Linked DNA regions of Homo sapiens. The protein of the gene in region 1 purifies or fractionates together with the protein of each later gene. This does not show direct contact. Each region holds a gene or a part of one and is shown on either strand. Other genes may lie near its edges.

The links.
Region 2: the proteins of VWA5A (region 1) and PKNOX2 purify together in Homo sapiens (affinity purification with mass spectrometry; 2 studies listed by BioGRID and IntAct, with this or other methods). This does not show direct contact.

Annotation. Positions count from the first base shown.
Region 1 is NC_000011.10:124,112,843-124,118,937, forward strand, and holds the start of VWA5A (von Willebrand factor A domain-containing protein 5A), read left to right. Parts: upstream 1-2,607; 5' UTR 2,608-2,640; intron 2,641-3,723; 5' UTR 3,724-3,838; intron 3,839-4,524; exon of another isoform or gene 4,525-4,621; coding exon of another isoform or gene 4,622-4,669; coding exon 4,670-4,712; intron 4,713-4,830; coding exon 4,831-5,033; intron 5,034-5,346; coding exon 5,347-5,569; intron 5,570-5,690; coding exon 5,691-5,866; intron 5,867-6,095. UniProt on the Homo sapiens protein: May play a role in tumorigenesis as a tumor suppressor. Altered expression of this protein and disruption of the molecular pathway it is involved in, may contribute directly to or modify tumorigenesis.
Region 2 is NC_000011.10:125,171,251-125,174,750, forward strand, and holds part of PKNOX2 (homeobox protein PKNOX2), read left to right. Parts: intron 1-3,500.

The sequences.
Region 1 (6,095 bases):
TTTTGAAATCTATTCTCCAGTATCTATAGTGGATTGCAATCACAAGACCTAAGCGTATATACAACCACTGGGATTTGTATGTATTTATTCATTAAACAAATAACTTCATGACTTTTAAAAACTTACTTTCTTAAAGGTTTACAATTTTAAGAGCACATAAAGGGCTCAAGTATGATAAAAACGGCAGGAAGTTTTAGGTGAATTGCTATGGAAACATCAGAGGAGAGAGAACAAGCAGAACTGGACACTTAAAACTCCATGATGATAGAGAACATTGAAGAAAGAGAATAACAGAAATGAGACAATGACCGAAACGACTTATTGAAAGCCTGTTCTGAACCAATGCTAAGCACTCTATGACAAACAGCCTTTTTATTTCAGGAAGGGAAATGGCTCTCAGAAGAACTGAAGAAAAATAAGTAGCAAACTATGATCAACATAATCAACACACACCGGCATAATTCAGGGCACATGTGTTACAGTGGTGGGCGCTAAAATAAATTGGATATTGTTCTCATAATATGCAGATTTCTATTTCCATTATAAGCAAATGTGCTTTTCATATTCTGAAGAAGATAGTTTCCTTAAAAGTCTACTTTTTAATTAATCATAATCAAATGTATTAGGGTAAGATAAGGACCCAAAGAGCTGTTATAAACCATGGAGAAATTTGTTACTTTATCCTGTAAAATTCTGTGATGATACAGTGGCTTGCTCTATGAGAGTCTCAGGGGCTCAGGATCTTTCTGTCTTGTTGCTTCTCCATTTTTAGGGGAAATGCTCCAGGCTTTATGATCTAGTCTTTATGGTTCAAGCTGGTTCAGTTACCTGCATTCACACCAATGAGCAGGAAGAGGGTAAAGTGAATGGGAAGCCATCCTCTTTTCTTTGAAAGGGCATGACATGGTGTTGCACTTATTTCTTGTACCCTATGGGCCAGAGCTTAGTTACAAGGCCACACCAGCTTTAAGGGAGGCTAGGCAATGTTTTTATTCTGAATGGTCATAGACATTGTGAAACTTGGGGTTCCTGTTAGTATAAAAAAGAAGGTGAGAATCAACCTTGAGGAATGCCTGGCAACACTAAGACAGACTTTTAAGTGAAGATATCTCATCTATATCGGTTTAATTGTGTATATTGTGCTAGGTTATGGGAATTTTCACATAGTTGTTTTTTCAACAACCAGCAACTTCTGTGTGTTTCCTGATTCAGTGCCCTCTAACCACGCTGCATGCCTGGTCTGTGGCAGACTTTTAGTGCTAAGCTCTAAGCCCAGCAGGATCAGATGATGAACTCTGCCCACGTTTCCAGCTCCTCCCTTTTGTTGCTCAGATGTTTCGGCCAATGGAAAGAAGGCACAGTCACAAGGAACAATACCAGACATGATTTCTCTCCAGAGAAAAGGATAATTTCCTCTCATAATTAGTTCAGTACATGTAAAAAACATGGTTGTAGGGCCTAGTACTGATAAAATAGAATTTGTGCTTATATTATGCTTTACTATATATGCATATATTACATGCATGTAACTGTATATACATGCATGGGTGTACATATATACACATATATACATCTATGCATGCACATCCATGTATATAAATGTGTATGTGGGTGTATATATATAAAGTATATAAATGTGTGTGTGTGTGTGTGTGTGTGTGTATATATATATATATATATATATATATAAAACTTTTATAGCCACTAAGATTCATTAGATCTCACAAAAACAATCAGTGGAGGTTTGTCATTATCCCCGTTTCAGATGAGAGAACAAATAACTTGGGGAGAGTTATTTGTATATAACAAATATCTCACAAAAACAAGTATATAACCAGTATATAACAAGTATATCCACAAAAAATACATCACAGAGACCAAAATCAAGCTGTGTTTTCCATATGTATCATGTATTCTTTATCCTATAGATTCTCGACAGCAATATGACACTTTAAGTCTCAGATTTAATAGGTTGTTTTGAAATAGAGAAGCCATGGGGACCTTGATCGCTTCTAATGTCCTTTAGCCAGGTAAATGAGCATAGACATTCTCAGTTACTTACATCGTTAACCCAAACATTTGGTTTCAGGATCCCATAAGCGACCCATGACAGGAAGACTTGGGCTTCCCTGGCTAGAGCTTCTCTCATTAGAGCAGATGTGTGTGCCTTGCACTATCTCCTTATCTTTCCCCCTGCTGTAGGGGAGGGGCAACTTGGGGGAAAATGACTCACATTAGAGATAAGGTGTCAATGATATAATCTCCATAAAGCTTTGATTAACAGGGCCCAGGACACAGTAAGCCTTTGGCAATTAAGCTTTTACAAAAATATGCAGTTTTTAATGTCATTGTTGTTGTTCCTGTTGCAGCATTTTCCCTTGCCCTCTTTGCCTGTTCTCTGATTGTTCCTTAGCAAAGAGCAAAGAAAAAAACCAAACGTTCCAAAGTCGAAGACTTTTCCTTTGATACAAACAAGCGAAAGTTCGATTATTTGTTCAATAATTTTCCGTTGATCCCTTAGTCTTGTAGTCGCTACTTTATAACCGGTCCCTAGAAGGGGGCGGTTCTTTCCGGAAATTATGACTGCAGCTGTTTTCACTCCGCTGTGACTCAGAGCGCTCCGGGCTGCAGGAGAGGAAGGTAGGGGACCAAGCTACCGGTGCAGGGCCTGGATCCAACCCCTGCTCTGGAAGACTGAGAGCTCCACATTCTAGCTCCCTTTCCCCAGTCCCCAAATTTGTAGGGGCTCCTTGAATTGCACGCCCCATGGGTGGAGGATTTCATCCTGATGTATGATCCCCAGGAAGGTTCCTGCAAGTTTGGCAGTTTAGGGGAATCTTTTGGAGGTTGAAGGAGGGATTTAGCCATCTCCTAATCTCAAGGCCCTTCTTCCTACTTTCCTTCTCTTTTACTTTACTTTTTTTCCCGCTTTCTTTCTTTGATATAGACAATTGATGTTTTCTCAGTTTCAGGATAGTGTAAGCTGAGGAAATGAGGCTGTAAGCCTCATCTACTCCAATCAGTTGCAGCCCCTAAGCCCTTCTCTATAGAAATGTAAGAGACCGACGCAGTCTCTTCTGTAAATACGTGGACATTGGAAATCTAGGACTGAATGGAAAGGTTAAATCAATCTCTGATTTTATCCAAGCCCCACTTCTTACCCCAAATCTCCTCCTTGTCTGGTTCCGAGTTCTCCACTTCACCCCTGCCACAGGCCGCAGGGGTGTGTGTGGCCGGTGGTGCCACCCAGCTCCCCTCCCACCCTCCTAGCTGCTGAGCGGCTGGTGCTGGGACTCTGCATTCCTGAAGCAGCTACCTGGCTAGGCCGGAAGCCTTGTATTCTCCCAGCTGCCTCAGATTCATGGCTTTCAGCTTGGTGGCCAGTCTCTACCTAAGCCTTGCAAGTTGCCTTTCTGAAGTGCCATCCTGAGAGACAGAACTAATTCTGACCCAAACTAATTTTGTTTGTACTGGGAAGAGTGGGGGCAAGGGTGCAGAATAGCAAGTTTTCCTCAACGGAGGATTTGTTCTGAGCTTAGAATCAGGAAGCGAAGGCTATTTCCTTGTAGGGGTGCCCTTTGCGTCTCTCTCTCTTTTACTCTAGCCACCTTGGTGAGTATTGCCCAGCCTGAGAGCTTCTCTTTCAGCTGTTTTACTCCTGTGTGAGTCTCCTGCTTTAGGCTCTCTGCTTAATGTGTTATTAGAAATTCTTCCCTCCCCCAGCCCAGCCTGTTCTACCAGAGAACTTGCCCAGGTCAGAGGTCTGCGTAGAAGCCCTTTTCTGAGCATCCTCTCCTCTCCTCACACCTGCCACTGTCCTCTGCGTTGCTGTCGAATTGTGAGTCATTTTGCCACACTCAGTTTTTATCCAATTTCTCAAAATAAAAACAGATATGGAATGAAAAGCCTGATTTATTGGTGCTGTTTAGTGGGGGTGCAAATGTAGGCTATGTGCCTATATAATATTTAAATATATTAGAATATCTTGGATGGATACAAACAAATATACTCGTATCTTTTAATTTTGGGTCCCAAAAGAAAAGCCACAAGGTAAATGGCCTGTGGCAGGAGTCCATCTTGAATCACACAGCTTCTCACATGCAGCGCGTCTCTGAATGCCATGATCCAAAGTGAATGGTGGCAGAGGTTTATTGATTAACAGTAACAACAATAATAGGGACAATAGTGATGTCTGTCATCATTGATTAAATGCCTCCTATGGCCCATGTGCTATTGTAGGGACTTCACATGTATTAATTCACATACGATGTGTGGATATTATACTACTCATTTTGGAAAGAAAATACTGAGGCTCAGAGGGATTAGTGACACCTACTCCATATGCCCAAGGAGTGGTGAATTAAATACACTTTTGAGAAAGTGGAATTGGTATTTGAACCAGCCTCAGGGTGTTTCAGAGATTTCCTGTTTAGTAGATACCAGTGAATCTTACACCTTCCCCACCTGGGACTGCCATTTAAAAGGACCCTTATGACTGAAATCTTTGTCTCCTTTTTTTTAAAGGTTCCAACTTCCTAACTCCAACATTAACCCTTTGAATGTATTCTTATGCCAGAGAAAGGCACATAAAGTACTGGTGTTTGAACAGATAACTTCCAACATGTCCTCTGTTTGTGATATGTCTTTTCTGCAGAAATCTTGCATCACCATGGTGCACTTCTGTGGCCTACTCACCCTCCACCGGGAGCCAGGTAAGCCTAATTTGTGACTCTTACTTGCCATTGAATCTTTGGCACCTATCACAAGGCTTGATCTACAAGGAGGCAATCTATTGAAGCTTGATGAACTTGAACTCTGGTCTATCTCCAGTGCCGCTGAAGAGTATCTCTGTGAGCGTGAACATTTACGAGTTTGTGGCTGGTGTGTCTGCAACTTTGAACTACGAGAATGAGGAGAAAGTTCCTTTGGAGGCCTTCTTTGTGTTCCCCATGGATGAAGACTCTGCTGTTTACAGCTTTGAGGCCTTGGTGGATGGGAAGAAAATTGTAGCAGAATTACAAGACAAGATGAAGGTAGTAGAGATTACCTCCTCCCTTCTTATTACATTACCTCCTCCCTTCTTATTTCCTTAATGCATACTCTTTATGATCTCTACTAAATGTACCTTCACAAAACATGCTGATGTTGAAAGCTCTTTCTTCCACTCTTTTCTAACTGCCATTTTTCTAAAATCATTTGGGGAAAGAAATCAATCAGAGGCATTCAGAGTATAGCTGTGATTAGACAAGACCAATCACACAGTCGCTCTGCACTGCTCGTCTCTTTTTCAGCCATGTCACCTTGGATGTTCCCTTTCTTTCCCATCCCTCGCCCTGTGCTTCTCAGGCCCGCACCAACTATGAGAAAGCCATCTCCCAGGGCCACCAGGCCTTCTTATTGGAGGGGGACAGCAGCTCCAGGGATGTCTTCTCTTGCAATGTGGGTAACCTCCAACCTGGGTCGAAGGCGGCAGTCACCCTGAAGTATGTGCAGGAGCTGCCTCTGGAAGCAGATGGGGCTCTGCGCTTTGTGCTCCCAGCTGTCCTGAATCCTAGATACCAGTTCTCTGGTGAGTACCTCTCCCCTTTGAATTCTAGTGGTGGGTGACATAAATGGGGAAATTTTCTTAAGGTTGAGAGTGTCATAAAAAGTGTTGGCAAGGAAAACAGAACTAAGGTCATCTTTTATAGGGTCGTCTAAGGACAGTTGCCTTAATGTGAAGACTCCTATAGTCCCTGTGGAGGACCTGCCCTACACACTCAGCATGGTCGCCACCATAGATTCCCAGCATGGCATTGAGAAGGTCCAATCCAACTGCCCCTTGAGTCCTACCGAGTACCTAGGAGAGGACAAGACTTCTGCTCAGGTAGTTAATGAGAGAATACTGCTATTGTCAGTACCTCTGTTGCTTGAGTCTTGACTTGGTCCCCAACCAGTTCTTCCCAAGTGGTAACCCAGAGGGGGTCCCACATGCTCCTTGCATATCGTCATTTAATCTCCAGAGCCTTCTCTCCAGCCTCACCTCTGTTCCTAGTCATGCTGTCTTATGGAGGAGGACTGCGCCCTAACCTCAGCCCCAAGAAGCAAGAAGTTAT
Region 2 (3,500 bases), 1.1 Mb from region 1:
TGTTCTTCCATTCAGCAAATATTTATAGAGCATCTTCTGTGTCCCCGGCACAGTCCTAGGCATTGAGGAGACAGCAGCAAAAACAAAGCCAAGACATTGCCATGAAGCCTGTCCTCAAGGAGCTTGCTTGTGGTGGGGGCGGTGTTGAGTATGGGCTTTATTTAGCATCAGGCAAAACTTCATTTAGAGCCTAGCCCTGCTCTTTACCTGTCATATGGATCTAGACAAGTTGCTTAACATCTTCGATCCAGTTACCCCATTTGTAAATTGGGAAGTAAAAGCACATAGCTCACAGGACTGTTGAGGGGCATCTGTTAAGTCCCTAGCACGGTGTCTGGCACAGAGGAGAGGCTCAGTCATGGTTGACTCTCCTCTGTCATGTTATGTTGGAGCTGATGATCCAGTTGGAGGATTACCCCTTTCCCTTTCCTTTTGCTTCCCCAGAACCTGGCTTGGGCCCTTTTCCAGGTCACTGGCGTCTTCAACCAGCGTTGCACAAATAGCCAGTCAATGCTGTGGCCTGGTGCTGCCTGCTGTGCACAGCCCTGGCAGAGGCTGCAGTAGAAAACAGGTACACAGACCCTGAGGACACTTTGGGGATGAGGGGTGTCTGGGGTTAACAGTAGAGAGGGCACATACAATACACAGACCTGAGAGATGATGGACAGAGAGGTGACGTGGAAAAAGCCACCAACCAGGTGTTAACCACAGGAGACAACAGTGGGGCAGGATGTGGAGTGACCAGGACAGAGTGGAGTCACAGGGCAGACTTCTGGGAGGAAGGGAGCCTCTGCAGAGTGTTAGAGGAGGACTGGCTGAGCGGCTGGCCAGTGGGGGCATGAAACATGAGCCTCCTAGGTCATGGTGCTCTGCGCTGTCCTGGGGACTGCAAGGGAGCAGCCTGGACTAGAAGGAGGAGCTTAGCCCCCTCTACCTATCCCAGGTGGCCAGAAGTGGGCTGTCCCTGCCCCAGGAGCACCAGGTAAGGCCTTGTTGTTTGGGTCCAGTTTCCCTTACACACTGAGGGATTTCCGAGCAGACCTTTCCACGTTGGCTTCTCAATGGGTAGAACTTAGACCAATGAGTTGGTGCATGAGGCAAACAAATCACTTCACTCCTGGTTGCAACATGGCTTTCTTACCTAAGATCCCCTTTTTCCCTAAGCAGAGAGAGCAGAGACTATAGGCCCACATCCAGCCCTCTTCCATCTCAGGAACCATGAAGCTGATTGATATCAGGGTGATCGGGATGGTGGAGAGAAAGGGGGGACTGGTAGTCTGAGCATGGTGGATTCCACTGTGGACTCAGCCACTGACTGACTGTGTGACCTTCAACAAGGGACTTACCTTCTCTGGATGTCAGTGTCCTCACTTATCCAATGAGGAGCTTGAACTTGCTCTCAGAGGTCCCCTTCTACTCAAAGTTCCATGATTCCATATTTCCTCCCAATTGGATTGCTTCGTGGCTTTGTGGCTAGGCAATCATTAAAACCACCGCCACCGCCACAAATCCGAGCAAAGAATCATGATGACATTCAACAGACTGCAGGGGCTTGGCCCCTGTGGTATAGAGTCTTAAGGACAGTGGGGGCCTAGGGGTTGGTTCTGACCCTTCTGATGGCCTGCCTGGGACAAATGGATGTTCCTAGCGATAGGGGATGGCTCCATGAGGCAGCAATTTCAGTCTGAAAACTCACTGGCTTCTTCATAAAAAGCAGCATTTACTTTTCTTGTTGAGACAGCGTGGGGCTAGGGGAAGGAACACAGGCTTTGGAGTCAGATTCTGGGTTCTGACCCTGGTTCTACTACAGCTAAGCAGTGTGCACATCACTTAACCCCTCTGAGCCTCCGTTTTCTTGGCTTTATAGGTGAGGATAATAATACTACCAAGCATATTTAAGACTGCTGTGAAAACTCTGGAAGAAAACATCTGTAAGTGGTTGGCACATGGCAAGCTCATGTTGAATAAATATTAGTCTTCTGTCCTAATAAAGCTCATTCTCACATGCCCTTGTGTGATCCTCTTAGCCTTGTGAAGCAGGTAAAATGGGCATTGTATCATTTTATAGGTAAGAGAAACTGGGGCTCAGAGAGTGGCTAAAGTGGCAGGTCCAGGAAGTGGGTGCAGGTGTGTCTGTGTGTAGCAATGGAGCACATTATTTAGGGTAGCCCAGGCTTATCTTCTATGATGATGGTTCTTCCTTTAGCCTTCTGGAGACAACACAAGCCATTCCTGAGCTCTACCTAGTCCTCTCCCAAGATCTTTCATAAAAGAACCAGCTAAACTCATCTCCTCCATTACTCGAATCTTTGGCAAATGCTGGGAAGAGCTACTGTTGTGAAAACCAAAGTCTAGAAGATCTGTTTTTTACTTCCACAAAGTCTTCAGTCTCAGGTGGGGCTGGGAGGGCCCGCACTAAGAGGCAGAGGTAGATTTAGGAGCAGGGGATATCTCATGGCTATGAGTGGGGGCAGCGAGGCTGCAGTGTGGCCTTGGTCTGCCAGCCCAGGTGTAAGCTGGACCCCTGGGTGGAAAGAATTCCCTCGGGGGCTCGTGCCCGTGGTCATCAGCTCACAATCCAGACAGATGTCAAGCCGACAAACACCAAGGGGAGTTTAGCCCGTTAGTGGTAGCATCTGTCTAATTCCTATTAGGTAAGGGGAGGGCACAGGCTCTCTGGGTTCCAGCGTAGCACAATGGGTCTGTGCTGGAGTAGTGGCAAGTGAGCCCTACCCCAGAGCTTCCCCTCACGGTCCTCAGTCCACAGTGCATTGTTAAGGAATGGATGCTCCTCTGTACCAAGTCCTGTGCTAGGTCTAAATGTGATGTGACCCCTCCTTCTGAGGAGCTGTCCTGCCTTCCTCCCAGGAGACCTTCCTCTGTGGAGATTGTCAGTTCTATCTCCAGGTCCAGGGCAGGGAGACAGACGCCCAGAGAGTCAAGTGTATGCCCCGGGCCCAGGGGCGACAGGTGCTTGTTCTCATTCTCATTTCCTCCCTAAGAATCCACCTGTCAACAGGTGTGGCCTGAACCCACTATTTAATTAGTGCCCATTAGCATGCTGTGGGGAACACTCAGTGGCCTCATCCTCTAGGAGCTACATATTTTTGATGAGGAGACCAAACAAAACGCATGTGAAATTGAGAACAAGCTATATGACCTTGACTCATCTCTTAACTTCTCTGGATTTCAGAATCCTCATTTTATACAATGAGCAGGTTATCCTTGGCTCTCTTCAAGCCCCTTTCAAGTCTATTCTCCTACGACTGTCTGGGCTGTACATGCGAGGTCCATCAGGCACCATGAGTTTGTAGAAGGTGATAGGACACCAGAGAACACCTAGCCCAGCAGTGGGAAGGCTGTCTACCTGTAGGCAGGTGAGTGGGTGGGAAGATATATTGCAGAGGTAGCTGGCCTCATTTATTTGTCTGCAGGGGCCGGGAGAGTGCTTGTTGAGAGGGACCCTGCAGAGTCCCCCAGCTTCCAGGAGGGTCAGGGGG